7 linked regions of the Homo sapiens genome follow. Changing the gene in region 1 together with any one later gene gives a genetic interaction. Each region holds a gene or a part of one and is shown in the gene's direction. Other genes may lie near its edges. The genes, in order: SEC22B, MCM3AP, ASCC3, PPP2R1A, CEP295, GET3 and RINT1.

Region 1 (4,620 bases):
CCTATGTAGAAAGTCTCTTTCGGGGGCAGAGGCTTTCTCTGGGTGCCAAGCCATATATATTAGGGAATAGTAGATTGTTAATTTCGTTTTTTCCCTCCCAGTGCATTTTAAAAACAGCACTGGCTGGGGCATTCTCATTCTCTGATGGAGCCATCAATGAGATTTAACTTAGTCAACCTGTGCTAGCAACATTCTGAAATTCCTTCAAAGAAGGCAGTCCTTTGGGAAGGTGTTTTTTTTTTTTTTTTTTTTTTTGACTCTAATCAACATTCCTTTTGTTGGTGACATTTGTGATTTTCAGTAATCTGAGTTTTTGATGGCCTTTTAAACAAGACTCCAGTATGTGAAGGTTAATTGCTGTGCTCCACAGATCTTGTCTATTGGCCCCTGTAGAAAGTTAACCTTTGTTGTTTTCCTTTTATAATTTGCTTATTGCACAATTGCTTTAGGGTAAGTGAATTATATTAAGATGCCTTGAAATTATAGCACTCCTTGATTAAGAAGCTAAAATGTTTCTCTCATTTACTCCTTAAACAAAAGACTTAAATTAGTTTGGGTCATTATTACTTTTATTTTGCAGCATTTGGTTTGTTATTAGCGTAAGAGCAAGTATAGGATATGGAGAGGCCCCTGGCTTCATGAGAACAAAGGCAGGCCCAGGTTATAATTACAGCTTTCTCCTGCCCCTTCTTTACTTTCTCTACCACAGTTTTCTCCACTGTTTGTTTTCCTCTTGCCACAATTTGCTAACATTTAAAAAATTTTCCTGCACCCAGTAGTTTCATATCCTGTAGACATCCTCTTAGGACATTCTCAAATTTCAAAATAAAAAATATTCATCTATGTAGTTAATTAAAGTTAAAGTTTTTGCAGATCAACTACTCAAACTACTAAATACATTTACCTGAGAAAAAGTCTCTGAGAGCACTTCATTCCTGTTTTAGTTCGTGTAAATTCTCTGAGAATGTTCTGGAGATAGATAACTCATTTACAGTGGTTTCTATTAACTAATTAAAGTACCCATGATTTTTTCCTTTTCTGCTCAGGGATGATGGAGATTTCCTTTTACCTTCTGAGGTAGAATTTTTTAATGGGGAAAATAGGCCTTTTAAATATTATTGCCAGGGTCTGCAATATAACTTAAAATTCCTGTACATACTGCAAATATTTCTTTAAATTGCACAGGAAAATGAGCGAACTTTTTATTTCTTAATATCTTTGGCAAAAAACTTTAACCAGTAAGCAATTTTATAACCCTGAGGGATCATCAAAGATACTATCCTGATTCCTGGTAAGGAAAAATATATTATTTCCTTATAACAAGGCAAGGAGAAATGCTATTTTATTCCTGATAATTTATATAACTAGAATAATTTTTTTCCTTTCTTTTATGGACCTAAATCTGCCAATTGGGAATTTTGTGCATGAAATATGAAGTTACTTTTTATAGATAATCAGTGCTTTTAAGTCCCTAAAAGGCTCCTGCTGAAGTAATGATGATGTTAATAATAAAAGCCTTTGAAAGGCTGAAAACCTACATAGTGGTACCATAGTATTTGGAGCTTCTATAGGAGTGGAGAGGGGCAGCTCATTGTTGAGAGTTGCATGCTGCAACCTAATGGTCAGCAATGAAATAAATACTTGTAGAATGTTCACTTCAGTGTGAAGTTTTGTTATCTAGTTAATTTATATACATATATCCTTTGTAGATACATTTCTATCTAATCTTGTTGGGCTAATTAAGAAATAAGGGGTGGGGTAATTGTCAACAAAGGGAGAAGAAAGTGGTTTAAGATCAGGGCAGCAGAAAAATTAGAGAACAAGAATATCATAATATGGCTCCTGGTTTTCTTTATAAGAGGCAGTGGGAAGATCTGACTAGATGAAATGTATCATCAACCAAACTGGCATCTAAAATAGAATGGGATAAATACTGTATGGGGTTATTGGAGGCATATTAAGAAAGGACACCTAATTTATTTTGGGAAGAAGTATGTTAAGAGAAGACTTTCTAGAGAAGGAGAATGGGGCATTCTAGGAAGAGTCAATGGCATGTGCAAAGGCATGAATAAAGACAGTGAGGCATATTTTGGAAATGTAACAGCTTGATTCAGCTTAGCCCATAGGGTAAGCATAGACAACAGAGGAGACTTGAGGAATGAGAACTAGATGGGTACACTATCATAAAGGGACTTGTCTATCATGCTGAGGAGTTTAGACCATCTTAATGGTAGTGGCCAAGGATGGCATCAGATTTATAGTTTCAAGTGATCATAATATTGGCATAAAAGATATATTAGGGAGGAAGCCTGAAGTAGGGAGATGAAAATAAGGAGCCATCAAAGGCAGAATGAAACTTAGGCAGATTTCAAGTGATTTTCAAAAATGTTGTGATCAGAGGTACCAGATAATAACTATTACATAACACTTTCTTTGTTAGGAGCTTATTTCTCACACTGACCAAAGCTTTTGAAGTAAGTACTCTTTACACCACTATATAAATAAACCTTACAAAGGATTCTGCTTTGAGGCATGAGAGAGTTAAGTCATTTGCCCAAAGTCACAGAGTTAGAAAGTAATAGAGCTAAGATTTGAACCTAGGCAGTTTGGCTCCAGAGTCTGTGCTCTTACGCTATATTACCACCAAGAGGTCAAATAAATACCAAAGAATGTATTTTCGAATTTAACAATGAGGAACTTAATCATACAGGCAGAAGTAATTCCAGAGCACTGGAGACAGAAGCCAGATTGCCATATGGGTTAAAGAGTGTGTAAACCACTAGGAAGTAAAGACATAGAACTACTCTCACAAGTGCTTTTCTGGTTATTGTGACGCTGAACTTCATGGCTTGTTTTAATTAAGACATCTTACAAGTGTCAAAATTTGGAAATATTTGGACACTGTACACTCTGGTTATTTAAATATCTAACAATGGTTCTTGAGCATTTTGAGAAACCTTTGAAAATCTGATGAAAGGTATGTGCCATTACTCTAGAAAAATGTTCCTGTGTACATGCACATCAAGTATCACATACTGTTTCAGGCTGTTCAAAGACTACAAAGTCTGTTCATGACCTAATGGTCCATGTTCCCTCAGTTAAGAGCTCCAGAGATAAAGGATGTGGAACTCAAAGGTAAGTACCCAGAGCCTTGAAAACTCCATCTGTGACTTGGAAGAATTCTACAATTTGAATTAACTTTGTGGAGAGAGATATATTTTTGAAAAATTGTGTGTACCAAAAAAATTTCATATCAAATAATATTTTCCTGTAGTGCATTCAAGGATCTGGTTCCACAGCAAAAAATTGTTTTGGTCTCAGTTCCTCAAAATCACATTTAAGGAGCTTGAGATTTATATTTTCTACTTAATAAGTCTTACAAAAGCAAGTTAAGAAGGAAAATGGACAATCATTTCTGCACATATAGGGTTTAATAAAACATGTATAATAAAATATCTCATATTTTAAATTTCCACCTTATTGGTAGCTTTCATGACAAAGGGCTAGGGTGCTGATGGCCATACAATTAAGGTTTTTGGTTAGTTAGTTAGCAGAACTAACTGACTCCTACCTGGTGGGTTTTTCTTTTGTTTGGTTGGTTGGTTGGTTGGTTTTTTCCCAGATGGCTCAGGAGGAAGGTAAATAGCAGTCATTGTATGTGTGACAGAGTTTGAGATAGAATGAGCATATTGAATCTCACATCCTATTCTTATTACTGTCAGGCAGCGTTGACCTAGCAGTATAAAACTATCTGAAGCAATGTAGTCACTCAGTTCTCATAAAGTTTATTTCAAGTACTGTAACAATTCATGTTTGGATTAGAAAAGTCACTAGAAATTTGACTTCCATATAGTAATCTATACTTTTTTCTCTCATTTCCTTCATTTTTTGAGCCGTAAGTGTAAGGCATTTTGCTGGTATTATTACAATGGTTATGAGGAGTTTCTTTGCTTGCCCAAGGTCACATAGCTAGCAAGTTAAAGTAGATTCAAATCCAGGCCTGCTAGATACCAAATTATTATTTAAGAGTACTTTTCACTACTCCTAAATAATGACACAGATACGTTTGTCTTACACATTTCACTTTATTGTCAAGTTATTAGTATGTTTATTTTCAAAAGTTATTTTTTGCAATTTCTTTTTATTATTCCGTACTTTTTAAATTTACTTCATTATCACGTCTTCCTTTATTCTTTTTAAATAGTTTTTGCTTTTGTTATTTTGTTTTCCCTTTTTTACTCTTGGTTTGTAATACCTCTTTCCTTATTTGCTCCTTTCTCATTTGATCTCAATGTTAATCCAACTGTTTTCCACATCTGATTCACTAAAATTTTAGCCCTTAAAAAAAAAATTCCTGTTTTTCCTATCTCCTTTTGTCCATTCTCTTCTCCTTGCCTCACTTCTTTTATCTTTTTCCATTTTACTTTCATTTTTTGTTTCTCTAGATGTTGTTTTGACATATGAGTTAATGTACTGGTACAATTTTGCATCTGTAAATTAGAGCTTCAGAATCAACTGAGTGTATTTATTCTTTATTTTTAGGCCTAAATTTATCTTACCTTTTATTGATTTTATAATATACTATACTCTTTCATTTTAGTCTGCATATGTTAGCCAAAG
Region 2 (4,110 bases), on another chromosome or scaffold:
GCTAATTTTTGTATTTTTAGTAGAGACGGGGTTTCACCATGTTGATCAGGCTGATCTTGAACTCCTGACCTCAGGTGATCTGCCCGCCTCGGCCTCCCAAAGTGTTGGGATTACAGGCATGAGCCACCGAGCCCAGCCTAGTTTTTTTTTTTAAATTAAGCTTTATCATAGGAAGTTGTTAAATTTTTAATAAGTACATTTCTGCTTCTCAGTTGATGTCATAACTTAGTTATATTCTTAGTAAAAAGCAAAGGCTTAAGGCTGGGTGTGGTGACTCATGCCTATAATCCCAGCACTTTGGGAGGCTGAGGTGTGCACATCACTTGAGTTCAGGAGTTGTAGACTAGCCTGACAATACAGCAAAATCCCGTTTCTACAAAAAAATACAAAAATTAGCTGGGTGGCATGCGCCTCTAGTCCCAGGTATTTGGGAGGCTGAGGTGAGATCATTTGAGCTTGGGAGGTCAAGGTTGCAGTGAGCCAAGATTGTAACACTGCACTCCGGCCTGGCCAACAGAGCGAGACCTTGTCAAAAAAAAATAATAATAAAATTGGCCAAGCACAGTGGCTCACTCCTGTAATCCCAGCACTTTGGGAGGCCGAGGTGGGTGGATCACCTGAGGTCAGGAGTTCAAGACCAGCTTGGGCAATATGGTGAAACCCCATCTCTACTAAAAGTACAAAAAATTAGCTGGGCACAGTGGCACTTGCCTATAATCCCAGCTACTCAGGAGGCTGACGCAGGAGAATCACTTGAACCTGGGAGGCAGAGGTTGCACTGACCCGAGATTATGCCACTGCACTCCAGCCTGGGCAACAGAGTGAGACTCTGTCTCAAAAAAAAAAAAAAAAAAATTATATAAAATTTTAAAAAAGCAAAGGCTTAAAAAGTTTTTAAGTATATATAGAAGATTAATGAACAATAGTTAACTTCCTAATGCTCAAATATTTTTGAATTTATTACATATTGTTTCAGGTTTGAAGATCAGCTTCAGCAATGGTTGTCTGAAGACTCAGGAGCATTTACGGATTTAACTTCCCTTCCCCTCTATCTTCCTCAGACTCTAGTGTCTCTTTCTCACACTATTGAACCTGTGATGAAAACATCTGTAACTACTAGCCCACAGGTGAGAAGAACGTATACATTTGGCATTTACATAAGAATTAAAGATTGAGAGAATGGCTGGGGAAAAAAGTAATATCACGATTTATCCTATGATGTTTTGATGACCGACAAATTATTAGCTCAAATTAGACCTTTTCTTAAACTTTATCCATATCATTGTTAAAGAGACCCAACTGATTTTGAGTTTCTGCCTACGAAATAAATGAAGAATAGAATTGAAATATTCTTAAGAACTGAATAAGACCTGTAACTGTGTGCTGATGTGTAATTAAGGGCATTAAGGTGATGACAGCAGCTTCTGTTGGAGCACATATTGTCTGAGCTTTGGCATTACCCAGACCTCTCTTCTGGGATTAATTTTTCCTGAGGAAAACTAATGAATGAGGAAGGTAAGCTCCCAGAAGTCAAGAGCCTCACCCAAGAGTGTTCAAGTAGTGAGTGGTCAGGTTGCTTTTCAAAGCCAGATCCAACTGGCTCCAAAGCCTAAGGTCTTTTTACCTTACCATTCTTCCTTCAGTGGTTAAAGATGCAAAAACAGAGTTTCAATCACAGATATGTGCCACTGAACAGGTAAAAACTGTGCTCCTGGACTGGCTTTAGGAAGTCCTTCAATAGAGGAGAAAAGCAAATTAAAATGATGTACTGTTTCCATTCATCAGTTTGGCAAATACTTTAAAAATATTCATACCCTTTGAATTACCAATTCTAACCTAAAGAATTCTGACCTACCAGATATTCCCCAAAAATTAATGTATAAAAATGTTTACTGTAGCATTATTGTATGAAAGTCGAAACAGAATAAATATCCGAAGATGGGAGTCTGATTAAACAATTATAACACATTCATGTGATAGAATAATTCACAGCCCTTGACGATGATATTTTCTAAAAATGACTGGCTGGGCGTGGTGGCTCATGCCTGTAATCCCAGCACTTTGGGAGGCTGATGAGGGAGGATCGCTTAAGTCCAGGAGCTTGAGTCCAGCCTGGGCAACATAAAGAGATCTCATCTCTACAGTACATAATTAGCCAGGCATGGTGCTACATGCCTGTTGTCCCAGCTACTCAGGAGGCTGAGCTGGTAGGATCACTTGAGCCCAGGAGTTTGAGGCTGCAGTAAGCTCCGATCATACCACTGCGTTCCAGCCTGGGTGAAAAATGACTGACACTGGAAATTGTTCATGATAGAATACAAAGGCAAACAGTCTATATACAGATACCAGCTGAATGTACGAGCTAAATGAGGCTGGAAGGATATACAAAGGATAATTTTTTTCCCTCTGTAAAAATAAATGACTACTCAGATGAGGTTTCTAACATGATCCAGATCTAGTACCTTCCCAGAGATAGGTCGTGGTTTATTGACATCCCAAAACTGTTCAGTTTCTTTTTTATTCAAATAGAGTGACATGATGAGGGAGCAACTGCAGCTGTCAGAGGCGACAGGAACGTGTCTAGGCGAACGACTAAAGCACCTGGAAAGGCTGATCCGGAGTTCAAGGGAAGAGGAAGTTGCCTCTGAGCTCCATCTCTCTGCGCTGCTAGACATGGTGGACATTTGAGCAGCCTGACCTGTGGGGAGGGGGTCTCTCCCGAAGAGTTTCTGTTTTTACTCAAAATAATGTTATTCTCAGATGCTTGATGCACTGTTGGAAATGTGATTAATTTAATCATGCAGATAAACCATTTAAATGTCAGTCTCCCAGTTTTTCATAATGAAAAGTTGTTTCCCCTGTGTGACCTCTTCAATATTCTCCTATATTCATGACCTCCTCAGATTGTCACCCACCAGCATATGCTCTGAGGCAGTTTAGAGCTTACATTTCCATGTATAAAAGGCGATTCATTCTCTCAGCAAACTTGCAGTCCTTGATGTGCCAGACATCAGTGATGCAGAGATAAAGTAAGACACAGGGCCTCTGCCTGCTAAGCCCACCCAGCTTACATCCAGGAGAGTCAGGTACTTATGTACATAATTCTCAGAGAATGTGCATGAGGCGTGGGCCTGAATTGGTAGCAAGGAAAAAACAGAGGATGGAACAGGGTCTGGTTGGGTAGAGGAGAAACAGAATTCCCGGAGAGGAGTGCAGGGGTGTAGCTGGAGACAGTGTACTTGAGAGGACATGATGAAAGCGTGGAGGTACCAGCTTGGTTGTGTGGCCAGGTGAGGGGAACAGGCCAGCAGGGTGAGGTCAGAGATTCTTGTCACCTTCTTCTGAGAGCTGTGAGAACCCGTTGTTGAAGATTAGGCAGAGAAGTGATCTGGTCACATTTTCTTTTAAGAATGGCATGTAGGGCAGGAATCTTGAGAGGTGGGTGCTGCAGCCATCCAGGTGAAATTCAAAGGGAATAAGCGTGAGTTTGTTAGCAATTGGTGTGAAGAGAGGGGATAAAATTTGAGCCATATACAGAAAGAGGTATTAATAGACTTGGTGATGTTGCGTATGACCACCAATCTTAAACTGGCACTCAGCATCTCCTGACTGTAATCCTACATCCCCAGACTCTATTTCATGTCTTCTCATTCTCTTCAAACCTCCAACATTCTTAGATCATGTCCTCCTTATTTCACTGAGAAAACAACAGCACTAAGAAGAGAACCTCTTCCTCCACCAAATCAATCCCTGCTTCTCCAAACACACACTACTCAACTCAGGGATCTTTAGTGATTAGCTTCATGTAAAGACTTAAATAATGCTATTTCTTAATCTTGACTTGACATTGTTGACTTCCTACAATGGAAGAGGAGTTAGCTTCTCTTACACTGTCTTTCCCACAACATATTATCACCCCCACCCTCGACACCCACATTTCCTCTCCTATTAGTCTCCCTAAGCAGTTTGATATTGGCTGAAACCTGCATTCACAGTTTAGTATAACTGTATGTTTACCATTTCCTGTTGAGCCCTTTATTGGTTTATGATTACATTTCCTTTAGGTACAACTTTTGATTTTTCCTGGAGTTAATTACATTGTTTTTCTCA
Region 3 (4,438 bases), on another chromosome or scaffold:
GGCTCACTGCAACCTCCACCTCCTGGGTTCAAGCATTTCTCCTGCTTCAGCCTCCCAAATAGCTGGGTTTTACAGGCATGTGCCACTACACTCAACTAATTTTTTGTATTTTTAGTAGAGATAGGGTTTCACCATGTTGACCAGCTCATCTTGAACTCCTGACCTCAAATGATCCACCTGCCTCTGCCTCCCAAAGTTCTGGGATTACCAGCATGAGCCACCACACCTGACCTTAATATGAGGTTTCATTTGTTTGTTTGTTTGAGATGGAATTTCACTTATGTTATCCAGGCTGGAGTACAAGGGTGCAACATCAGCTCCCTGCAACCTCCGCCTCCCGGGTTTAAGCAATTCTCCTTCCTCAGCATCCCGAGTAACTGGGATTACAGGTGCCTGCCACCATACCCAGCTAATTTTTTGTATTATGTTGGCCAGGCTGGTCTCAAACTCCTGACCTCAGGTGATCCACCTGCCTTGGCCTCCCAAAGTGTTGGGATTACAGGCGTGACCCACTGCACCTGGCAATATGAGCATTTTTTAGATGACTTAATGTATTCCAACTTATAAAAAAAAGTAATAATTACAAACTAATAATAGTAATAATAAAAATAGCAACAATCATAAAGATAAAATCATGGGGGAAAACTATGATTTTTTTACCTTAATATTCTACTTAAAGCTTAGATTTAATCATGCCAGAAAATCTCTTAATTTTTGTTTCTGAATGCTGTAAAAATATATTACTCTCTGACTCCCTTTTGAAATACTGTAAGTGAAACATCTCCCTCTAGAATACTGAGTGAAGTCTGAGAATGTATCATTATTACTATATTTTATGCCATAAAGTCATTGTCTTAAAGAATCATTAGAATAATCTTGCATTTTATAAAAATTGATCTAAAATAAAGACCTCAAGTGCGATCATTATATTTATATCTAATTTTGGATTGTGGTGATTAATATATTTTACAAATTGCTTGACTTAAAATTGCCCATTCCTCAGAGAAGGGACTTTTTAATGTTACCATATTAGAATATGTGCTTTTTTATGTGAGTTTTATTCTTGGATGAGGGGGAAAGTATGTGTTTGATATAGTACTCATCATCTTGGGGTCCAGAGTCTAGTCTTGATTGGCTTTGTGTTTTTGTTTGTTTGTTTGTTTTCTTAAGCATTCGTTTTTGGTGAATAAGGTTTTGGAAGATTTGATTAACATGGTTATGTCTCAATTTGTTCATCTACCAATGTGGTATTAAAGTTAATTGTAGGAATAGCATGAGAATTTGCTAATTTGATGTCAAGATCCAGAGTTTTTTATTCTAACTGGCCATATATTCTGATAGTTACAACTACGAACTAGTGTCTATAATATGCTCTGAGAATCTTGAAGTAAGTTAAATAATTGCATATCAAAGACACCAAACCAGAATGGAAGAAAATTTAAAACATCTCAGATAGATATGCTGAACTATGTAGATGTATGGCCTTCAAGTAAGACAACGTAGCCTTAACCACAACCAAGTGGTATAGGAAGTCTAGATATTTTTAATGTTGTATCTTTTTTTCTGGTTTACAGGGAAAGCCAGAGAGCTGTGCAGTTACTCCTCGATTTCCCAAATCAAAAGACGAAGGATGGTTTTTGATATTAGGAGAAGTGGATAAGAGAGAACTTATTGCTTTGAAAAGAGTAGGATATATTCGAAATCATCATGTTGCTTCCCTTTCTTTTTATACCCCTGAAATACCTGGAAGGTAAGAAGAATCCTACTACCAAAGTTCTCTTTTTTTTTTTTTTTGAGGCGGAGTCTCGCTCTGTCGCCCAGGCTGGAGTGCAGTGGCGCGATCTCTGCTCACTGCAAGCTCCGCCTCCCGGGTTCACGCCATTCTCCTGCCTCAGCCTCCCGAGTAGCTGGGACTACAGGCGCCCGCCACTGCGCCCGGCTAATTTTTTGTATTTTTAGTAGAGACGGGGTTTCACCGTGGTCTCCATCTCCTGACCTCGTGATCCGCCCGCCTCGGCCTCCCAAAGTGCTGGGATTACAGGCGTGAGCCACCGCACCCAGCCTCCTACTACCAAAGTTCTGAAAGAATTAAATATGATTGTGATTACAAAAGTGGTTTTACATTTTTCTTCTATTTTTATATTTTAGGTATATCTACACATTATATTTCATGAGTGACTGCTACCTTGGCCTGGACCAGCAGTATGACATCTATCTCAACGTTACACAAGCGAGTCTTTCTGCACAGGTCAACACCAAGGTCTCTGATTCCCTGACTGACCTGGCATTAAAGTAACTTGACCTGAACAATCCATTTGAAAGGAGTGGCTAAGAATTCTCTCTGTTCAGTCATCTAGACAAATCGAATTACTTGATGTTTGCCTTGAAAGAATCAACTTCTAACCTCAACCATCCAGGAAATTGACAGTGGCTGCAGTATTGACTCCAGTGACATAAAGTTAACCACAGTGGCCTTTTAACAAATGTTGCCTTTTATAATGTTATCTTTATGAGTTTCTTGATATGTAAGATGAAAAAGCATTTAGAATAATCTTTTAATTTGTGTATATTTGGGATGATATTTAGGAGCTATCAATCAAATTTTACATCTCACAATGTACTGTTTACATGGATATTGGCTGCTTTTTTTAAGGAAAACCACATTGAGATGTGACAAGTGTTAGGACTTGTCACAGATTTCTAACTCTGCCGCATAAACTATAAATCTGTAAGGTGGTACACAGCGTGTCTTGTTAGCAAAATTTATACTTTGATATGATCACATGTAGAAGTAGCTTCAAGAATTTCTTGTAGTCATAAATGTTTAATAATATATGATGTAAAATTATATTATGGAGCCTAATGATGATAACAAAGAAAACAATATACTGATCTTAGAAAATGTAGACATGGTTAACTGGGAAATAAAATATAGAGTGGCACTTCAAGACAAGCTGACTCAATGTTTTCTTCTGCTTCCTTTAAATAATATCCCCTTACTCATCTGTTCTTCTTTTCTTTCCCTTCTACTTCAAGGCTTTATTTCTATTATCTTTCTGACATATTTATTTACAGAAGTAGAGAAGTATAATCTAATTCATGTTGTAGCACTTACAGATCATATAGTACAATTATTTGTCTTTATGCTCTCCAGGAAAAATCTGAGACAGAAAATTTTTCACCCCTATGGATAGGTTTTCACCTGTAATAAAGAAAATTTCTCTATGTCCAAACAAATTCCTTCTTGAAAAATACTTTTTCAAACTAAAAACTTGTTAAAATTCAATGTTCATATAATATGCATTCTAGTGGAATGAAATTCTACCTTTGTGAAATAATTTCAGTTTTCTTAGCCCTAAAATGAATTATTTTAAAACATTTTCCAATGTCATTGTTACAAATACTAGAATTTAAGTGTTTCTGAAATTGGAATGTATTGCTTGTATATATCCTTTTCCATGCTTAAATAAAAAAGAAGAAGAAATAAATGTAGGTTGCAGGGGAACCAGTTATTCACTTCCCAAAAATTAAATCGAAATAACTATTGTGAGCAAACCAAGTATAGTGAGAATGAGGTGTCCCAATTACTCTAGTCTGAGAAATTTACTTCATATAAAGAGTTCTCTCTGTTTTTTCTTTGGCAAAGTTTATTACCTAATTGGAATTTATATCTTAACCACTGTTTTAGTAGAATTAAAAGAAAATGGAGATTATATATAGATAACAATCACCAGTCCATACAGGAACCTGAGGAGTAACAATCTCACTGATTCCATGTTTACCAACATCATTCCTTTTTGTTAGCGAGCAAGCCAACTTGGGGAGTCTCCTTCACTGGACATACGACACAGGACATAGGAACAATAAGAAAGTATTTCTGTTGTCCCCTTTAGAGAGAAGAGAAATAATGTGACAAATTTAAGTTAATCTTATTCCAATGAGTGACCGACACTATCTACAACTTTATCCACACTCATTACTCAACAAAAATTGTAGTGTTAAATGTGTCTTAGAATATATGCCAACATATTCAGATTAGTACTACTATTTACATATCTGCAAGTCATTCACTTCTTATAACTTTTTTAGTGGCCAAGAATTTTCCCAGTGTTTAAAATAATTCCAAATGCTGATTATTGAGAGAATGCATTTGTTCTAAAGTGTCTTGGATGGTTTTGTTTTCGTGAAGAGAAATATTGTGATAAAAAGGTTTCAGGGCTGTATTATAAAGTGCTTTCTTAACTGATGTACCCACACCACAGCCCACTTATCTCAGAACATGCACCTCTGGGCTGGCTATCACACTATACAACTCTGTTTTCATGGCAGGTCATTTCATATTTCTCTGGAGTTTATCAACTCAAAATAATTGAAGTTCCAGTCAAGGATTTGTTGTAGGCACTGTGTTGAGTATTCTGATACCCACATGAATCAGAAA
Region 4 (4,620 bases), on another chromosome or scaffold:
ACCCATTTGCTGGGCCTCAGAGACTTGGGGGTTCTGAGATTCTGTTCCACTTTCCCAGCCTGCTCTGATCTCCCTGTTTGGGGCCCCAGTCCTTGTTTATCATACTTCTGACCTTTAAGTAATTGGTTGGTTGGTTGGTTTTTTGCAGTTTGTTTGGTTTTCCTTTGAGGCAGAATCTCGCTCTGTCGCCCAGACTGGAGTACAGTGGTGCGATCTCGGCTCACTGCAACCTCTGCCTCCTGGGTTCAGGCAGTTCTTGTGCCTCAGCCTTTCAAGTAGCTGGGATTACAAGTGTGCACCACCATGCTTGGCTAATTTTTGTACTTTGAGTAGAGATGGGGGTTTTCCCATGTTGTCCAGGCTGGTCTTGAACTCCTGGCCTCAAGTGGTCTGCCCACCTTGGCGTCCCAAAGTGCTAGGATTACAGGCTTGAGCCCCCGTGCTCGGCCTTGAGTTTACCTTTTTTTTTTTTTTTTTTTTTTTGAGACGGAGTTTCGCTCTTGTTGCCCAGGCTGGAGTGCAATGATGCAATCTTGGCTCACCACAACCTCCGCCTCCCAGGTTCCAGCAATTCTCCTGCCTCAGCCTCCCAAGTAGCTGGGATCACAGGCGTGCACCACCACGCCCTGCTAATTTTGTGTTTTTAGTAGGGACAGGGTTTCTCCATGTTGGTTTGGCCAGGCTGGTCTCAAACTCCCAACCTCAGATGATCCACCCACCTTGGCCTCCCAAAATGCTGGGATTACAGATGTGAGCCACCACGTCCGGCCTGATTTTACTTTTAATTGACTCATAATTTTATATATTTATGGGGGTATAGTAGTGTTTCAATAATGTGTGCAAATGTGTAATGATCAAATTAGGATAATTAGCATATCTATCACCTTAAATGTTTACTGTTTCTTTGTGATGAGAACATTCAAAATCTTCTCTTATAGCTGTTTTGAAATATGCAAAATGTTATTATTAACTATGGTCACCCGCCTGTGCAGTGATCAGAGATTTCTAATTCCTGTGTGTGCCCTGGATTCTTGAGACTCCTCCCACCTTGGGTTTGGTGTATCCGTGTCTGTGTACACTCTCTTGCCCAAGAGCCCTGTGCCCACCTGTTGCCCCAGTCCATCCTGGCTCACCCTCTCTCTCCCTGTCTCCTTTCGCTTTCCAGCACCTTGCAGAGTGAAGTCAAGCCCATCCTAGAGAAGCTGACCCAGGACCAGGATGTGGACGTCAAATACTTTGCCCAGGAGGCTCTGACTGGTAAGACCTAGAAAGCACGGAGCCCTAGCAGGAGGGTGGACTTTGAGGACAGGCACTGGGCCTGTGGGCAGCAGCTTCTGGGAGGGGGAGGTACCTTGGCATTGTGGGCAGAGAGAGGGCTCTGGTTCTGATTCTTGCCTGTTCCTGTTTTCCTAGTTCTGTCTCTCGCCTGATGCTGGAAGAGGAGCAAACACTGGCCTCTGGTGTCCACCCTCCAACCCCCACAAGTCCCTCTTTGGGGAGACACTGGGGGGCCTTTGGCTGTCACTCCCTGTGCATGGTCTGACCCCAGGCCCCTTCCCCCAGCACGGTTCCTCCTCTCCCCAGCCTGGGAAGATGTCTCACTGTCCACCTCCCAACGGGCTAGGGGAGCACGGGGTTGGACAGGACAGTGACCTTGGGAGGAAGGGGCTACTCCGCCCACGTCAGGGAGAGATGTGAGCATCCCGGGTCACTGGATCCTGCTGCTGTAATGGGAACCCCTCCCCCATTTACTTCTCCACCTCCCGTCCTCCCCATCATTGGTTTTTTTTTGTGTGTCAACTGTGCCGTTTTTATTTTATTCCTTTTATTTTCCCCCTTTTCACAGAGAAATAAAGGTCTAGAAGTAGTTGGTCCTCTGGCCTTAGTCATCAGCTTGGAGGAGGGGGCACCACCCCAGAGCCACAACATCTGCGCTTTTCTCTGGAGAAGATCTTGTTACAGGACCCATTATACCCCTATGTCCCGAAAGAATACTCTGGGGATCCCCCCAGGAGTGCTGCTGGCCTTTGGGGTAGAGGGTCCATGAGGTGCTCTGGGTGGTGTCCTGTAGTGCAGTTCAGATTCATAGATGTCGGCCGAGTATTTGGGGGGTTAAGAGCAGGTGCCTTGGAACCAGACTGCCTGGGTCCAAATTGTGGCTCCTTCAGTTAATAGACGTGTGACTAGGAGTAGCTTGTTAAGTCTTTATGAGCTCAGTTTTGTATTGTGTAAAATGAGAGTTACAGTAATACCTAGATTGCAGGGTGGGTGGCGAGGACCAAGTGAATTAGTACCTGGAAAGTGTGTAACAGTTTCAACATGAGAAGTACACAACATGAGAAGCAGAGTTAGCTGTACATTGCCAGAGAACCCCCTGTGGGCCATTTCCTGTGTTCTTGAAGAAGACTTGGGCTTGGACCCTGTCCCCAGGAGGTCTCAGAGTAATCAGGACGGTACTAGGGAGAGAACTGTGGCAAGATAGATCAGTTATCTCGGTATCTATTCTCCCCTTCCTAATGTAGAAGCTCTGATTTTTAACTGGGCAGATGACTACATGGATTCAAGGTATTTTCCTAGTGTCTCTTGAAATTAGGTGTGGTATTGTGACCAAATTCTAGCCAAAAAGATGTTGAACAGAAGTGGTATATGCAGCTTCTAGGAAGTGTTCTTAAGGGGGAAGGCGTCATCCCCCACCTTTCCTCCTTCCTGCACTCTGGAATGTGGACCAGATGGCTGGAGTAGGAGCTGCCACCTGGGGCCAGAAAATGATCTTAGGCGTGAAGGTCAAGTAAGGCAGGACAAGAGAGAAGGAGCCTGCCTCCCCGAGGCTGTGAAGAGCCATGCCAGTACTGTCACCTGGGAGAATTAAACTGGTCAAGTGCCTGTTCGTTTAGGGTTTCATCACTTGAAGGTGACCGGAATTCTAACTGATGGAGGGAGGGGCCCAGAGCACCCTGGAGAAAGGAGCAAGGGACGTATGGCTGGTGGTGTCTGCATGGAAGGGTTTCACAGAGGAAATGATGCTTGAGCACATTTTGACCCAGGTGGTGGAAGGGAAATGTGGCTTTGAGTGACAAGGTGATTTCACCAGCTCAGCCTTCATATTACCACATCCCTACCCTTTGTTAGACTTTATTGTGCCCTAGGGGATGAGGCTGAAGGAGACCAAAAAGCATCTTTAGAAATTTCCATTTATGCCCTGGGCGATAAACTCTCTCCCAGTTGAGAACTACTGCTCTAGAAATGTGAACACACGTGTAACCAAACGTCAAAGTCTGACATTAAACTTTGACTTTCCCCATGGTTAACGCTGCTGGTCCATTGTAACAAGAGTGCAGTGGACCAGCAGCCTTTGCATTCTCAGGAGCTTGTTAGAAATGCAGAGCCTCTCGTCCCTGCCCCGACCTGCTCAGGCAGAGCCTTCATTTTAACAAGATGCCCAGGTTCATCTGCACACTGAAGTTAGAGAAGTCCTGCCTTAAATACTAACCCAGTTTTTCTCTCTTGAGAGTGAGGTTAATGCTACGTGGGTCTAGGGCTGAGGATGTGCTATGGCTCAGAGGTGGGGTCTACAATTGGACATGTGTATGTAGACAAGGCTCAGGGATATGTTGAGGCTGCTAGATTGGGCAAGTGATGGAATGGGATTATTACAGGAGGTGGAGGTGCGATGGATACCCAGGATGTGCTGGGTAATGAGGTGATACTCAGCGACCACAGGAGTGAGTATGAGAGACGAGGGTGAAGGATAGCTTGAGTTATTGAACGCTGGCAGAGTCCTGAGTTAACCAGGAGTTGCCTGGTGTCTTGGGTCATGTGCTCTAGAAGCAGAGCCCGAGTGGAGACTCGTTCAAGTGTGTTACTGAGGGAGTGCTCTCAGGAGAACGGACTGAGGTAACTCACCTTCTGTGAGCTTCATGTTGGAAGAATCCAATCAGGTGATGAATGTGATGTTATTAAGTCCATTGTTAGGAGTGGTTCCTAATCTCCCAGGCTGCAGGCTTTGTTTGCTCCATACACCTGGCCTTCTCTGTAGCAGCTGAAGTTTGATGCTGGAGCTGGGTCAGGGTGGAGAGACTGTGTGGAGCCAGGACTCATGACCCTGGCCTGTTTCTCCCGCTCTCTAGGCCTAAATCCCAGCAGTCACACTGGCCATCTCTAATGGTTCCTTCCACAGCACTGTTCTTCAGAGCCCACACACAAATTTTGTCTCCTTTTGTGATGACTGCACTTCTTTGGCTGTTTTTGCCAACAGCCTCTTCACTGACCCCTTCCTTCCACTGCATTGACCCAGACATCTGGATGTGGATGAGGTCGAGTCACTTGTTGCCTTTGGCTAATGCATAGGGGCACGAGTAGAGCTCTAGAATCACCATGCCCTTGACTCAGGGTGCAGAATCTGCCTATGGTGCTTGAGCTGTGGTTGTCGCTAGAGGAGAATTACCATGGCTCCCCCGGGCAGATGAAGATGACGAGGTGGTGCCTCAGCCCCGAGGAGTGAACTGCAGGGCACCGACAAGATTCTGCCTGTGGCCATCAGGGCTGGAGGGAAGGAGGCCAGGTTCATCTACCCAAGCTGGTGGCATGAGGCATAAATTTAAAAAAATTGGTGTGGGCACA
Region 5 (4,620 bases), on another chromosome or scaffold:
AATCTTTTATAAAAGAGGAATATTATAGATTAAATGAGATAGTGCACATAAAGCACAATGTCTGGCCCATAGTAACACTGAATACAGTGAGCCTTTTTCCTTTTTTAAGCTTATACTGAAGCAGTGGTTACATATGTCCTGTTGATCCTCATTAGCCTCATAAGGCTGTGGAAATGGAAATTCGTATTTGTCAAAAGTTTGTTCATACCTGTAATCGTAGCACTTTGGGAGGCTGAGGCAGGAGGATTGCTTGAGCCCAGGATTTCAAGACCAGCCTGGGCAACACTGAGACCCCATCTCTATTTTAAAAAAAAATTTTTTAAATTTAAAAAAATTAAATTTCTCTAAAAATAAAACTTAAAAAGTTTTGGTCACTGAGAGGATCCATATTTTGGACCTTTGAAATAATCATGATAGGACTTAACTTTAAAGCATCTGCTGATCATGGGGGAAAAACTGAAGTTTTTGTTACACTGGAGTTACCTGAAAATAAGCGTTTATGAATATGTTCTTAATACTCCTTTTCTAGTGTTTACCTTAAAAATAAATTTATGATTTTTTTCCCTCAAAAATTCTAACAGTTGACCTTGACTTTCCAGAATTGGAACACATTTTTCCTAATTTGCATCATCAGCTGTTTAAACCCTTAGAACCACATCCAGATTTTGACTTATCATCATCATCCTCTGGGATTTCTCCAGACAACAGAGACTTTTACCAGGTATATTAAAGTAGATGTCCCATTGCAGTGAATATCTAAAAATAGTTTTAAGCCATTTCTTCTACTGGAACAAAAGTTCTTCTAAACCCTTACCTAGAATCACATGGAAGTCTGGGCACAGTGGCTCACACCTGTAATCCCAGCACTTTGAGAGCCCAAGGCGGGCAGATTACTTGAGGCCAAGAGTTCGAGACCAGCCTGGCCAACATGGCAAAACCCTGTCTCTACTGAAAATACAAAAATTAGCCAGGTGTCGTGGTGCGCACCTGTAGTCCCAGCTACTCGGGAGGCTGAGGTGGGAGGACCACTTGAGCCCAGGAGGTGGAGGCTGCAGTGAGCTGAGATCGTGCCACTACACTCCAGTCTGGGTGACAGAGCCAGACCCTGTCTTTAAAAAAAGAAACAAACAAACAAACAAAAAGAATCACATGGAAAACTTAAATAAAAAATAAAAATAAATCCTATTGTCCAGACTACACCCTAGACCAATTAAAGCAGAGTTTCTGGGAGTGCTCAGATAGTACTAATTATTATTATTATTTTTTAAGCTCCCCAAGTGATTCTAATGTGGAACCAACTTTGAAAACAGCTGCATTGGGCCGGGTGCGGTGGCTCATGCCTGTAATCCCAGCACTTTGGGAGTCTGAGGCAGGTGGATTGCTTGAGGCCAGGAGTTTGAGATCAGCCTGGCCAACATGGTGAAATCCCATCTCTACTAAAAAACACAAAAATTAGTTGGGTGTGATGGCATGCCTGTAGTCCCAGCTACTCGGGAGGCTGAGAACCGCTTGAACCTGGGAGGCAGAGGTTGCAGTGAGCCGAGATCGTGCCACTGCACTCCAGCCTGGACAACATAGTGAGACCCCATCTCAAAAAAAAAAAAAGGAAAACAGCTACATTAGAATTTTGTTTGTCCCATCCACCTGTCTCCACCTAGGGAGTATGATGCCATAAAAGGCTTAATAACAACTTTTAGTTGTGGAACATATTTAAACAGTAAAGTAAATACAATTTTGCAAAATTTAAAGTATCCTCCTACACAGTCAAAGGAGCTGAGATTTAAACCTGAGTCTTTTTGCTTCCACTTCCTGATGGCCTGACATTTTAAAGTCTCTTTCATATTGATTGAAAAGAACTGGATTTGAAAAAGCAAATCATTGCTGTCATAGTGAAGTGATAATTAAGGAAGAGTAATACCAAAGGAACACAATGATTATTGTTTCAATTGTTAATACCTAATCAGTATTTCAGCCTTTCCCTTTTGTTTCCTGCCAGAGATCAGATTCTTCATCTGAAAGCCACTGTGCTACTGGATTATCCAAAAGTACAGTTTATTTCACAGCACTGAGGAGGACCAGCATGCATTCTTCTCTTAACACAAGTCCGAATCAACAACCTGACACTAACTTGGCTCATGTTGGAGCTCACAGTTTTGCTACAGAAAATATTATTGGGGGTATGTATGACTAAGTTAGAAAAAGTTAATTTTTCCATGATTTTTTACATCCATTTCCTTAGAAATTAAGCCTAGCACCTCTTGGTTTGTCTTCACCCCTGCTCTCACCCCTATCCTGGGTGTTAAAAAATATTTAAATTACAGAAGTAATACATGCATTTTTTTAAACAATACTGAACATTATGAAATAAAAGGAAAAGTGTTGCCTCTTGTTCCTCAATTTCCCTACCTCAATCATTATGTGATAGTTAACAGTTTAAGTATTATTTTTTTGTTTGTTTTTTTTGTTTTTGTTTTTGTTTTTATTTTGTTTTTGAAGACTGAGTTTCACTCTTGTTGCCCAGGCTGGAGTGCAGTGGTGCAATCTTGGCTCACTGCAACCTCCGCCTGCTGGGTTCAAGTGATTCTCCTGCCTCACTCAGCCTCCCAAGTAGCTGGGATTACAGGCATGTGCCACCACACCCAGCTAATTTTCTATTTTTAGTATAGACAGGGTTTCACTATGTTGGTCAGGCTGGTCTAGAACTCCCGACCTCAGATGATCCACTCGTCTTGGCCTCCCAAAGTGCTGGGATTACAGGTGTGAGCCACCATGCCCAGCCAGTTTAAGTATTCTTCTTAGGCCAAGTATAGTGGCTCACGCCTGTAATCCTAGCACTTTGGGAAGCTGCGGCAGGAGGATCCCTGGAGCCCAGGAGTTCAAGACCAGCCTGGGCAACATAGAAAACAAGTATTCTTGAGCCTTTGGTACAAATGATTATATATACACACAAACATACATGAGATACACAAGGATGTACAAATTATATATACACACATGGATAATTGAGATACACATGGATGCTTTATTCTCTTTTCTGTTATTAAAGTCATATTCAGTTCTTATAGAGGAAAACATCCTCAGTTTATAGCCATATTGTCCTTATTAAATATTAATAGAAAAAGAAAAAATACTTGGTGTGAGCTGTAGTTTGAGAAATCACTGTGACCATCCTTATCTTTGTATTCATGTTTATACACATCAACTTTTATGCCTAAAATTGTAGGTTACTTGCAATTGGATGATAAACTATTAGAGACTGTCAGTATCCAACTTTTACAACATGTAACGATGATTAACTGATTTTTGAATTTCTTAATGCAGGATCTGAACAATGTTTTGAACAGCTTCAGCCAGAATATTCTTCACAGGAGGAGAGCCAGCATGCTGATCTACCAAGTATTTTTAGCATTGAAGCAAGAGATTCTTCCCAAGGCATGAAAAATCAGAACTATCCCTCTGAAGAACATACTGAAATATTACAAAACAAGAAAAAAATTGTTCATTTCCAGCTTTCTATAGGAAACTTAAGTTCAGTCTACAGTTCATCTGATGAAGCTAATGTATTTGATCAGTTAAATGTACAGCATAGCACTCCATGTGGTTCTAACTCTAGTGAGTGCTCAACAAAACACCAACTAGAAAGCAGAAAGGAAAGTATGGGCTTTGAAGAACTATCAAAAAGAGGGGTTGTTACAATGTTACAAAGTCAAGGACTCATTGAAGATAATAAAAATGAAACCTGTAGGGTTTTAGACATAAATCCACAGGTAGAGGAAACTGACTCTCGATTATGTGTAAGAACAGTGGAGATGGGAACTTCAATTCAGGCACCATATTCCTTAACTACTCAAAATGAAAAATATTTTGAGAATTCAGCTGAAACAGACATTCCAAAAATCACCAAAAAACTATCTCAACTAGGAGAATCAGAGCTTTTTGCAAGTTCTGGATCATTTTCATTACAGAGCTCTATACCAGTCTGGGTAAGTGAAATCAGTGTTGTATAAATAACATTTAAATTCCTTTTTGGGAAAAAACTTTTTTCTTCTAAAATTAGAGATGAAGTTCCCACTATGCTACCCAGGCTGAACTCAAACTCCTAGGATCAAGGGATCCTCCTGCCTCAACTTCCGAAGTAGTTTGGACACACCACAATGCCTGGCAGGAAAAACCTGAAACAAAATACAAGCAAAACTGCTTGTTAATATTGCTATCCAGCTTGTGATCACTAGAAATATCCAGCATAATGCAGAAACTTAAAAATTTGAAAACTGTCTTCTGAGAGTATTTTACAAAAGATCCTTTTTCTCCCAATTCAGATATCCTTTCTCCAACTTCCCTGAAAAATGGTGGTTCTGCCTGTGCTTCAGCACTTTCAGTGTTGAGCCTCATTCCAGTGCAATGAATTCATCCATTATTGGAATAAGTATTGGAAACCTGCTCCTCATATTAAGCAACTTATAATCTGCTTGCTTTCAACACCAGTCAACTGGTGACTGGTTTTCATCTAGCAGTATGTGCAGTTTATCCTTCCACAAATAAACATAACAGATTGAAAATAAGAATTACAACTAAACCACGTTTTATGTGGCTGCTTTTGTTCTTGTTGTGTTTAGATAC
Region 6 (4,620 bases), on another chromosome or scaffold:
AAGCTGGAAGTAACCAGAGTGGGGGATTTTGCCAACAGCAAGGGGAAAGGGAGTGTTTGCAGAGGGAACCTGTGGAGGCTGGGCTGGATAAGGGTGCCAGCCAAGAGGAACACTGACAGTTTACAGGGGCCAGGTGAGGGGATGAAGTAGTCCAAAGAAGCTTAAAATATATGAAGCATAAGAAGAGGGTGCAGTGATGAGTGGGCAAGCTCCCCAACAGGGAATGACCCCTAAGGCCAGCGAGTTGGGTACTTCCCCATGGGACCCATGAAGTTACCAAGAAGAGGTGACAGAGGAGGAAGATAAAGAGGGAGGCATTGGCCGGGCATGGTGGCTCATACCTGTAATCCCAGCATTTTGGGAGGCTGAGGTGGGTGGATCACCTGAGGTTGGGAGTTGAAAACCAGCCTGACCAACATAGAGAAGCCCCGTCTCTACTAAAAATACAAAATTAGCTGGGGTGGTGGCGCATGCCTGTAATCCCAGCTACTCAGGAAGCTGAGGCAGGAGAATCACTTGAACCCTGGAGGCGGAGGTTGCAGTGAGCCAAGATCACGCCATTGTCCAGCCTAGACAACAAGAGTGAAACTCCATCTCAGAAAAAAAAAAAATTACAAAAATTAGCCAGGCATGGCCAGGCGTGATGGCTCGTGCCTGTAATCCCAGCACTTTGGGAGGCCGAGGTGGGTGGATCACGAGGTCAGGAGATCGCCACCATCCTGGCTAACACAGTGAAACCCCGTCTCTACTAAAAATACAAAAAATTAGCCAGGTGTGGTGGCGGGCGCCTGTAGTCCCAGCTACTCACTGCACTCCAGCCTGGGTGACAGAGCGAGACTCCATCTCTTTTTTTTTTTTTTTTTTTTTTTTGAGATGGAGTCTCGCTCTGTCGCCCAGGCTGGAGTGCAGTGGCGTGATCTCAGCTCACTGCAGGCTCCGCCCCCTGGGGTTCATGCCATTCTCCTGCCTCAGCCTCCCAAGTAGCTGGGACTACAGGCACCCGCCACCTCGCCCGGCTAATTTTTTGTATTTTTAGTAGAGACGGGGTTTCACCGTGTTAGCCAGGATGGTCTCGATCTCCTAACCTCAGGTGATCTGCCTGCCTCGGCCTCCCAAAGTGCTGGGATTACAGGCGTGAGCCACCACGCCCGGCCAAGACTCCATCTCAAAAAAAAAAAAAAAAAAAAAAATTAGCCAGGCATGGTGGGGCATGCCTATAGTCTCAGCTACTCGGGAGGCTGAGGCAGGAGAATTGCTTGAACCCAGAAGGTGGAGGTTGTGATGAGCTGAGATCGCGCCACTGCACTCCAGCCTAGGCAACAAGATCAAAACTCCATCTCGGGAAAAAAAAAAAAAAAAGAGGGAGGCATTGAGTCTGAGACTGGCCAGGGACCCCAGCCATGGCCATCCCTTCATAGATTCTACATACATGTTTGTGTTTTGTTTTGTTGTTTGTTTTTTGAGACAGAGTCTCCCTCTGTCACCCAGGCTGGAGTGTAATGGCGTGATCTCGGCTCACTGTAACCTCTGCCTCCCGGGTTCAAGCGATTCCCCTGCCTCAACCTCCAGAGTAGCTGGGATTATAGGCACCCGCCACTATGCATGGCTAATTTTTGTATTTTTAGTAGAGACGGGGTTTCACCATGTTGGCCAGGCTGGCCTCAAGCTCCCGACCTCAGGTGATCTGCCCGCCTCCGCTTCCCAAAGGGCTGGAATTACAGGCATGAGGTACCGCGCCTGGCTGGATTCCCCATATGTGCTGACGACCTCTGTGCCAGGCACTGTTCATGCTAAGCGCTAAGGACACAGCAGTGAACTAGATGGTAAAACCCCTGCCCCTGAGGGGCAGACATTCCTGCTATGGAGACAGATGATAAACATGATAAGGGAATCATGAGGGATGTGAGGAAGGGCTAATTTTTTTTTCAGATAGGTCTTGCTATATTGCCCAGGCTGGTGTCCAACTCCTGGGCTCAAGCGATCCTCCCATCTCATTCTCCTGAGTACCTGGGACTACAGGCGTGAGCTATCCTGCCCAGCTCCTAAGGGCTAAACCTTAAGGAGAAAGGAAGGCAGGGCAGGGGTGTCGGTGGATCTGTGCTGTTACTTAGGGTGGTCAGGGAGTCTCTCAGTGGAGGGATGATGATCCGGAAGAGGTCATGGCCCAGTCATGGGAGTATCTGGGGTTGCAAGTGGCAGGTTGCAAGTGGGGAGTAGCAGTGTAAATGGCCCGCAGTGGGTTTCAGCTTCCCTTTGAGGGCCCTGGGCACAGCTTGCAATTTTCCCCTTGTTTTTGACCCTTTATGCAACCATACAAAACCCTAAGTACTACCTCAGGGTCCCCCCAGCCGTGACCTAATGAAATGCCTGTGGTCACAGCCCACCACAGGCTCCCTCTGGCCCTGTGCCCGGGTAGGAAGGCTCCCCCTGGCCCTGTGCCCAGGTGGGAAGGCTCCCCCAGCAGTAGCAGCAACCTCAGTCTCATCCCTTTGGCCCCCAGGAGATTGACCCCAGCCTGGGCGTGGCGGAGCTGCCTGACGAGTTCTTCGAGGAGGACAACATGCTGAGCATGGGCAAGAAGATGATGCAGGAGGCCATGAGCGCATTTCCCGGCATCGATGAGGCCATGAGCTATGCCGAGGTCATGAGGTCAGGCCCAGCCAGCAGGGGTGGGGGCTGCCTGGGGAAGGGGAAGAGCGGACACAGAGGGCCTGACCCCTGTCTCCCCTCAGGCTGGTGAAGGGCATGAACTTCTCGGTGGTGGTATTTGACACGGCACCCACGGGCCACACCCTGAGGCTGCTCAACTTCCCCACCATCGTGGAGCGGGGCCTGGGCCGGCTTATGCAGATCAAGAACCAGATCAGCCCTTTCATCTCACAGGCAGGCGGCGGGGGCCCCCACCTGCACCATCCAGGCAGCCGGGAGTGGGAGTAGGCCCGGGCCCCCAGACCCTCAAATGCGCACTAACAATTCCCTTTCCTTCCCACCCCTTCTCACTCTGGACTTCTCCCTGGAGGGGATGGGACGGAGCTGTCTTTCCTCCCCCACAGGCAGGACTCAGTGTCCCTGCCCCTGCCCGCTAAATACCCTAGACAGAGCCAGAAAGCACATTCCAGAACCAGGCAACCTGCCTTCAAACCCTCTACACTCACCATGTGACCCAACTGCTGTGTGACCTCAAGCAAATCACTTCACCTCTCTGGGCCTCACCTTCCTTGTCTTGCAAATGGAGATCATGAGAGTGCCCCATGGGTTATTATTATTATTATTCGAGACGGAGTCTCGCTCTGTCACCCAGGCTGGAGTGCAGTGGTGCGATCTTGGCTCATTGCAACCTCCACCTCGTGGGTTCAAGTGATTCTCGTGCCTCTACCTCCCAAGTAGCTGGGACTACAGACATGTACCACCATGCCCAGCTAATTTTTGTACTTTTTGTAGAGATAGGGTTTTGCCATGTTGCCCAGGCTGGTCTTGAACTCCTGGCCTCAAGCAGTACACCCACTTCGACCTCCCAGAGTGCTGGGATTACAGGCATGAGCCACTGTGCCCAGCCCCCATGGGTTATTATTACGATGACAACCCTAAAGCCCCCACAGTGCTGCACACCACCAGCACCACCCACCATGGTGTATGTGCACGTGTGGGTGTGTGCGTGTCCCCTGTGGGGACCTGTGCCTCAGGTGGTAACACTGAGCACTTACTGTGTGCCAGACACTATTCTCAGCACATTATATGCTTCAGCTCATCTGGTACAACAGATCTGGGAGGTAAAGTTTAGAGATGGGGAAACTGAGGCTCCAGGAGGGTCAAGCCCCTTAGCTATGGTTCCCTAAAAATGGCAAAGCTGAGGCCGGCCGCAGTGGCTCATGCCTGTAATCCTAGGACTTCGCAAGGCCGAGGCAGGTGGATTGCCTGAGGTCAGGAGTTCAAGACCAGCCTGGCCAAAATGGTGAAACCCCACCAGTACTAAAAATACAAAAATTAGCCGGGCATGGTGGTGCGCGCCTGTAATCCCAGCTACTCAAGAGGCTGAGGCAGGAGAATCGCTTGAACCCAGGAGGCGGCGGTTGCAGTGAGCCAAAATCACGCCATTGTACTCCAGCCTGGGCAACAGAGTGAGACTCCATTTCAAAAAAAAAAAAAAAAGAAAGAAAGAAATGGAAAAGCTAGTATTTGACCAACCCCAGGAATCTGCTTATGGGCCTGAGCCTTTAACCACTGGGAGGTATCAGGAGTCATCCCTCGGGTGTTTAGTGAACCCCCAACCCAGGAGGTCGCCGCAGGTAAGCTATGAGCCCTCCCACATCCCCCCTGCAGATGTGCAACATGCTGGGCCTGGGGGACATGAACGCAGACCAGCTGGCCTCCAAGCTGGAGGAGACGCTGCCCGTCATCCGCTCAGTCAGCGAACAGTTCAAGGACCCTGTGAGTGGTGGTCTGGCTGGCGGTGAGAGGCCCGGGGGCTGAGGACAGGGGCAGACCCCGCCCCTCACTGTCCTCTCTCGTGCCCTGTAGGAGCAGACAACTTTCATCTGCGTATGCATTGCTGAGTTCCTGTCCCTGTATGAGACAGAGAGGCTGATCCAGGAGCTGGCCAAGTGCAAGATTGACACACAC
Region 7 (3,608 bases), on another chromosome or scaffold:
TGCACTCCAGCCTGGGTGACAGAGCGAGATTCCGTCTCAAAACAAAAAACAAAAAAACAAAACAAAAAAAACTTGTACAAAAATGTTCACAGCAGCATTTGTTCATAATAGACAAAGTAGAAGCTACCCAAATGTCCACCAGCTGATGAATGGATAAATAAAATGTGGTCTATCTATATAATGGAATATTACCTGGCAATGTAAAAAAAATGAAGTGCTGATACGTGTTACAATATGATACGTGTTACAATATGGATAGACCTTGAAAATGTACTGAAAGAAGACAGTCACAACCAACCATACGTTGTATGATTTCATTTATATGAAATGTCCAGAACAGGCAAATCCATTGAGACAGAAAGTCAATTAGTGGTTGCCTATGAGTTGAGGGAGTGGGGAGACGGTATTAGAGGATAACGGCTTTTTTCTTGGTGATGAAAATGTTCTAAAATTGTGATGGATATACAACTGAATATATAAAAAAATCATTGAATTATACACTATTATTAGTTTTGAGATGGAGTCTCACTTTGTCGCCCAGGCTGGAGTGCAGAGGCATGATCTCGGCTCACTGCAACTTCCACCTTCCAGGTTCAAGCTAGGATTACAGGCACATGCCACCACACCCGGCTTATTTTTGTATTTTTAGTAGAGTTGGAGTTTCACCATGTTGGCCAGGATGGTTTCGAACTCCTGACCTCAGGTGATCCACCCACCTCAGCCTCCCAAAGTGCTGGGATTACAGGCATGAGCCACCGTGCCCGGTCGAATTATACACTTTAAATGGGTGAATTGTATGACATATGAATTCTATTTCAAACTGTTAAAAAAAAAGTATGCTAATGTGTTAACATGTTTTTGCTTTCAGTTCTTTCTACAACTTCAACAGGCTGCACTGGAGGTGTTTGCAGAGAATAATACTCTGAGTAAATTGCAGCTAGGACAGCTAGCCTCTATGGAGAGCTCTGTCTTTGATGACATGATTAACCTCTTAGAACGTTTAAAGCATGATATGTTGACCCGTCAAGTAGACCACGTTTTTAGAGAAGTTAAAGATGCTGCAAAATTGTATAAAAAAGAAAGGTATGTCCTCTATGTAAGTCAGCTCTTAACACCAGTTTGGTAAAAGTTAAAGAATATGTGGTCAGATTTTCAAGGTGTCTAGATAGAACCCGGTTTGGCCTTATGTACTTTATTGTTGATGGAAATATTTCTAAAGTATGTTCTCTTGGACATTTTTTTTGAGACAGTCCTACTCTGTCACCCAGGCTGGAGTGCAGTTGCACGATCTTGGCTCATTGCAACCTCTGCCTTAGAGGTTCAAGTGACCTTCCCACCTCAGCCTCCCAAGTAGCCAGGACTACAGGCATGCACCACCACACAAGGCTAATTTTTGTATTTTTAGTAGAGATGTGGTTTCACATTTTGGGCAGGCTGATCTCCAACTCCTGACCTCAGGCAAGCCACCTGCCTCGGCCTCCCAAAGTGCTAGGATTACAGGTGTGAGCCACCACACCTGGCTGACATTCTTAATCAGAATAAACTGATTATAATTTAGTTGTTTGTAAATATATCAATAGGATAGTGTGTGATCTGGGGTTGAATAGCCTAACCTGTCTCCCATTTTGCAAAGTAAAGTGCACCTGTGGTACTCTGCATACTTTTGTTGTGGTTTATCCCACTACCATTCACTGTGAACACCTGTGTTACTTTCATCCTTGATAGCAAGCAGTATCTTTTTGTCCTAGCATAGTCCCTGCCACACAGAGTGCTTAAAATTCGTTTATTAGTCCTGTTTTTACTAAAAATTAGAGGATAATATTAGCTGATGTCTTAATTAAAATGCTAAAATCAGGCTGGGTGCAGTGGCTCACACCTGTAATCCCAGCACTTTGGGAGGCCAAGGCGGGCAGATTACTTGAGGGCAGCAATTCGAAACTAGCCTGGCCAACATGGCGAAACCCTGTCTCTACTAAAAAATTCAAAGATTAGCTGGGCGTGGTGGTGGGCACCTGTAATCCCAGCTACTTGGGAGGCTGACACGAGAATTGCTTGAACCCTGTGGCTCTAGCCTGGCCAACAGAGCGAGACTCTGTCTCAAAAAAAAAGAAAAACTACATAAATAAAATGCAAAAATTAAGTGACATTTTAAATTGTAATTGCCTTATATCAGTAATTCACATATTAAAATTTGGGGATATTTTGGATATATCCCCATATTAAAGAGTATTTGAGAGTGAAAATATAAATACAGGTACATTTATTTTCTGATAGAGCTTTTAATGTTAGGCTGTATATTTTTTCTTATCCAAAATGCCCTAGGACAGAACACTTCCTCAAATTTAAAATGATTTAAAAACTTGAAAAATAGAAACTGATGAAAATTTTTTGGTAAAAATGTGTTTTTTCCAGATGGTTGTCCTTGCCATCTCAGTCAGAGCAGGCAGTGATGTCCCTGTCCAGTTCGGCTTGCCCGTTGCTGCTGACGTTACGAGACCATTTACTTCAGTTGGAGCAGCAGCTTTGTTTCTCCTTATTTAAAATTTTCTGGCAAATGCTTGTAGAGAAGCTGGATGTATACATCTACCAAGAAGTAAGTAAGAATAGACTGTTTTTGGGCTGTGATAATAAAGACAACTGTTATATGAATTATTCTTTGTTTCAGATAATTCTTGCTAATCACTTCAATGAAGGAGGAGCAGCCCAGCTGCAGTTTGATATGACTCGGAATCTTTTCCCTTTGTTTTCTCACTATTGCAAGAGACCAGAAAATTATTTTAAACAGTAAGCTCAACATTTAACAATTAATATTAATGTATCAAATTGTTACAGGAGGCTAACTCCTTTTAACTTTAGGGTTCTGGAGATGTTTGGGTGGGATAAGATCAGTTGAAATTTTAAAACATTGTCTATCTACTGTATGCTTACAGCACAATGGGGAAACCAAGATGATAGATGTGACCCATGACCTCAAAAAGTTTCAGAACTAGATATAAATTACCTGTTGGGTTTTGTTTTCTAGTATTTGGTTTAATGCTTCTAGTTGCTTAGTTACTGGAGGAATAAATAGAAAATGAAAACAAGTACAGTTGTGCCCTATTCACTAAATATAAGAAATTACAGGGCCGGGCGTGGTGGCTCACGCCTGTAATCCCAACACTTCGGGAGGCTGAGTTGGGCAGATCACAAAGTCAGGAGATCGAGACCATCCTGGCTAACATAGTGATACCCCCATCTCTACTAAAAATACCAAAAAAAAAAAAATTAGCCAGGCCTGGTGGCGGGCACCTGTAGTCCCACCTGCTTGGGAGGCTGAGGCAGGAGAATGATGTGAACCCGGGAGGCGGAGCTTGCAGTGAGCCAAGACTGTCTCAAAAAAAAAAAAAAATTACAAATATGTTTAATACCTAATAGGCCAGGCCTGAAAGAAATTTGTTTCCTTAAACATTTGACATTAATTTTGGTTCTAAATATAATTATAGTTTCAGAATTTGTTGATCTAAAATTTATAGGCCAGGCATAGTAGCCCACATCTGTAATCCCAGTACTTTGGGAGGCAGAGGTGGGAGAATTGCTTGAGGCCAGCTGTTTGAGACCAGCCTGGGCAA

Evidence for each region.
Region 2: changes in SEC22B (region 1) and MCM3AP together harm fitness more than expected from each alone (negative genetic interaction), as found in Homo sapiens cells (one large-scale study listed by BioGRID).
Region 3: changes in SEC22B (region 1) and ASCC3 together harm fitness more than expected from each alone (negative genetic interaction), as found in Homo sapiens cells (one large-scale study listed by BioGRID).
Region 4: changes in SEC22B (region 1) and PPP2R1A together harm fitness more than expected from each alone (negative genetic interaction), as found in Homo sapiens cells (one large-scale study listed by BioGRID).
Region 5: changes in SEC22B (region 1) and CEP295 together harm fitness more than expected from each alone (negative genetic interaction), as found in Homo sapiens cells (one large-scale study listed by BioGRID).
Region 6: changes in SEC22B (region 1) and GET3 together harm fitness more than expected from each alone (negative genetic interaction), as found in Homo sapiens cells (one large-scale study listed by BioGRID).
Region 7: changes in SEC22B (region 1) and RINT1 together harm fitness more than expected from each alone (negative genetic interaction), as found in Homo sapiens cells (one large-scale study listed by BioGRID).

What each region holds. Positions count from the first base shown.
Region 1 is NC_000001.11:120,152,239-120,156,858, reverse strand, and holds part of SEC22B (vesicle-trafficking protein SEC22b), read left to right. Parts: 3' UTR 1-4,620. UniProt on the Homo sapiens protein: SNARE involved in targeting and fusion of ER-derived transport vesicles with the Golgi complex as well as Golgi-derived retrograde transport vesicles with the ER.
Region 2 is NC_000021.9:46,233,846-46,237,955, reverse strand, and holds the end of MCM3AP (germinal-center associated nuclear protein), read left to right. Parts: intron 1-976; coding exon 977-1,127; intron 1,128-1,629; exon of another isoform or gene 1,630-1,732; intron 1,733-2,529; coding exon 2,530-2,688; 3' UTR 2,689-2,823; downstream 2,824-4,110.
Region 3 is NC_000006.12:100,507,244-100,511,681, reverse strand, and holds the end of ASCC3 (activating signal cointegrator 1 complex subunit 3), read left to right. Parts: intron 1-1,574; coding exon 1,575-1,750; intron 1,751-2,148; coding exon 2,149-2,296; 3' UTR 2,297-3,488; downstream 3,489-4,438. UniProt on the Homo sapiens protein: ATPase involved both in DNA repair and rescue of stalled ribosomes. 3'-5' DNA helicase involved in repair of alkylated DNA: promotes DNA unwinding to generate single-stranded substrate needed for ALKBH3, enabling ALKBH3 to process alkylated N3-methylcytosine (3mC) within double-stranded regions.
Region 4 is NC_000019.10:52,224,552-52,229,171, forward strand, and holds part of PPP2R1A (serine/threonine-protein phosphatase 2A 65 kDa regulatory subunit A alpha isoform), read left to right. Parts: intron 1-1,165; coding exon 1,166-1,257; intron 1,258-1,413; coding exon 1,414-1,430; 3' UTR 1,431-4,620. UniProt on the Homo sapiens protein: The PR65 subunit of protein phosphatase 2A serves as a scaffolding molecule to coordinate the assembly of the catalytic subunit and a variable regulatory B subunit.
Region 5 is NC_000011.10:93,723,655-93,728,274, forward strand, and holds part of CEP295 (centrosomal protein of 295 kDa), read left to right. Parts: intron 1-599; coding exon 600-721; intron 722-1,996; coding exon 1,997-2,177; intron 2,178-3,321; coding exon 3,322-3,983; intron 3,984-4,620. UniProt on the Homo sapiens protein: Centriole-enriched microtubule-binding protein involved in centriole biogenesis.
Region 6 is NC_000019.10:12,742,877-12,747,496, forward strand, and holds part of GET3 (ATPase GET3), read left to right. Parts: intron 1-2,500; coding exon 2,501-2,649; intron 2,650-2,732; coding exon 2,733-2,883; intron 2,884-4,320; coding exon 4,321-4,428; intron 4,429-4,518; coding exon 4,519-4,620.
Region 7 is NC_000007.14:105,562,865-105,566,472, forward strand, and holds part of RINT1 (RAD50-interacting protein 1), read left to right. Parts: intron 1-868; coding exon 869-1,083; intron 1,084-2,259; exon of another isoform or gene 2,260-2,412; coding exon 2,413-2,593; exon of another isoform or gene 2,594-2,665; coding exon 2,666-2,784; intron 2,785-3,458; exon of another isoform or gene 3,459-3,608. Other genes in the region: EFCAB10 (EF-hand calcium-binding domain-containing protein 10), read right to left, coding at 2,685-2,751. UniProt on the Homo sapiens protein: Involved in regulation of membrane traffic between the Golgi and the endoplasmic reticulum (ER); the function is proposed to depend on its association in the NRZ complex which is believed to play a role in SNARE assembly at the ER.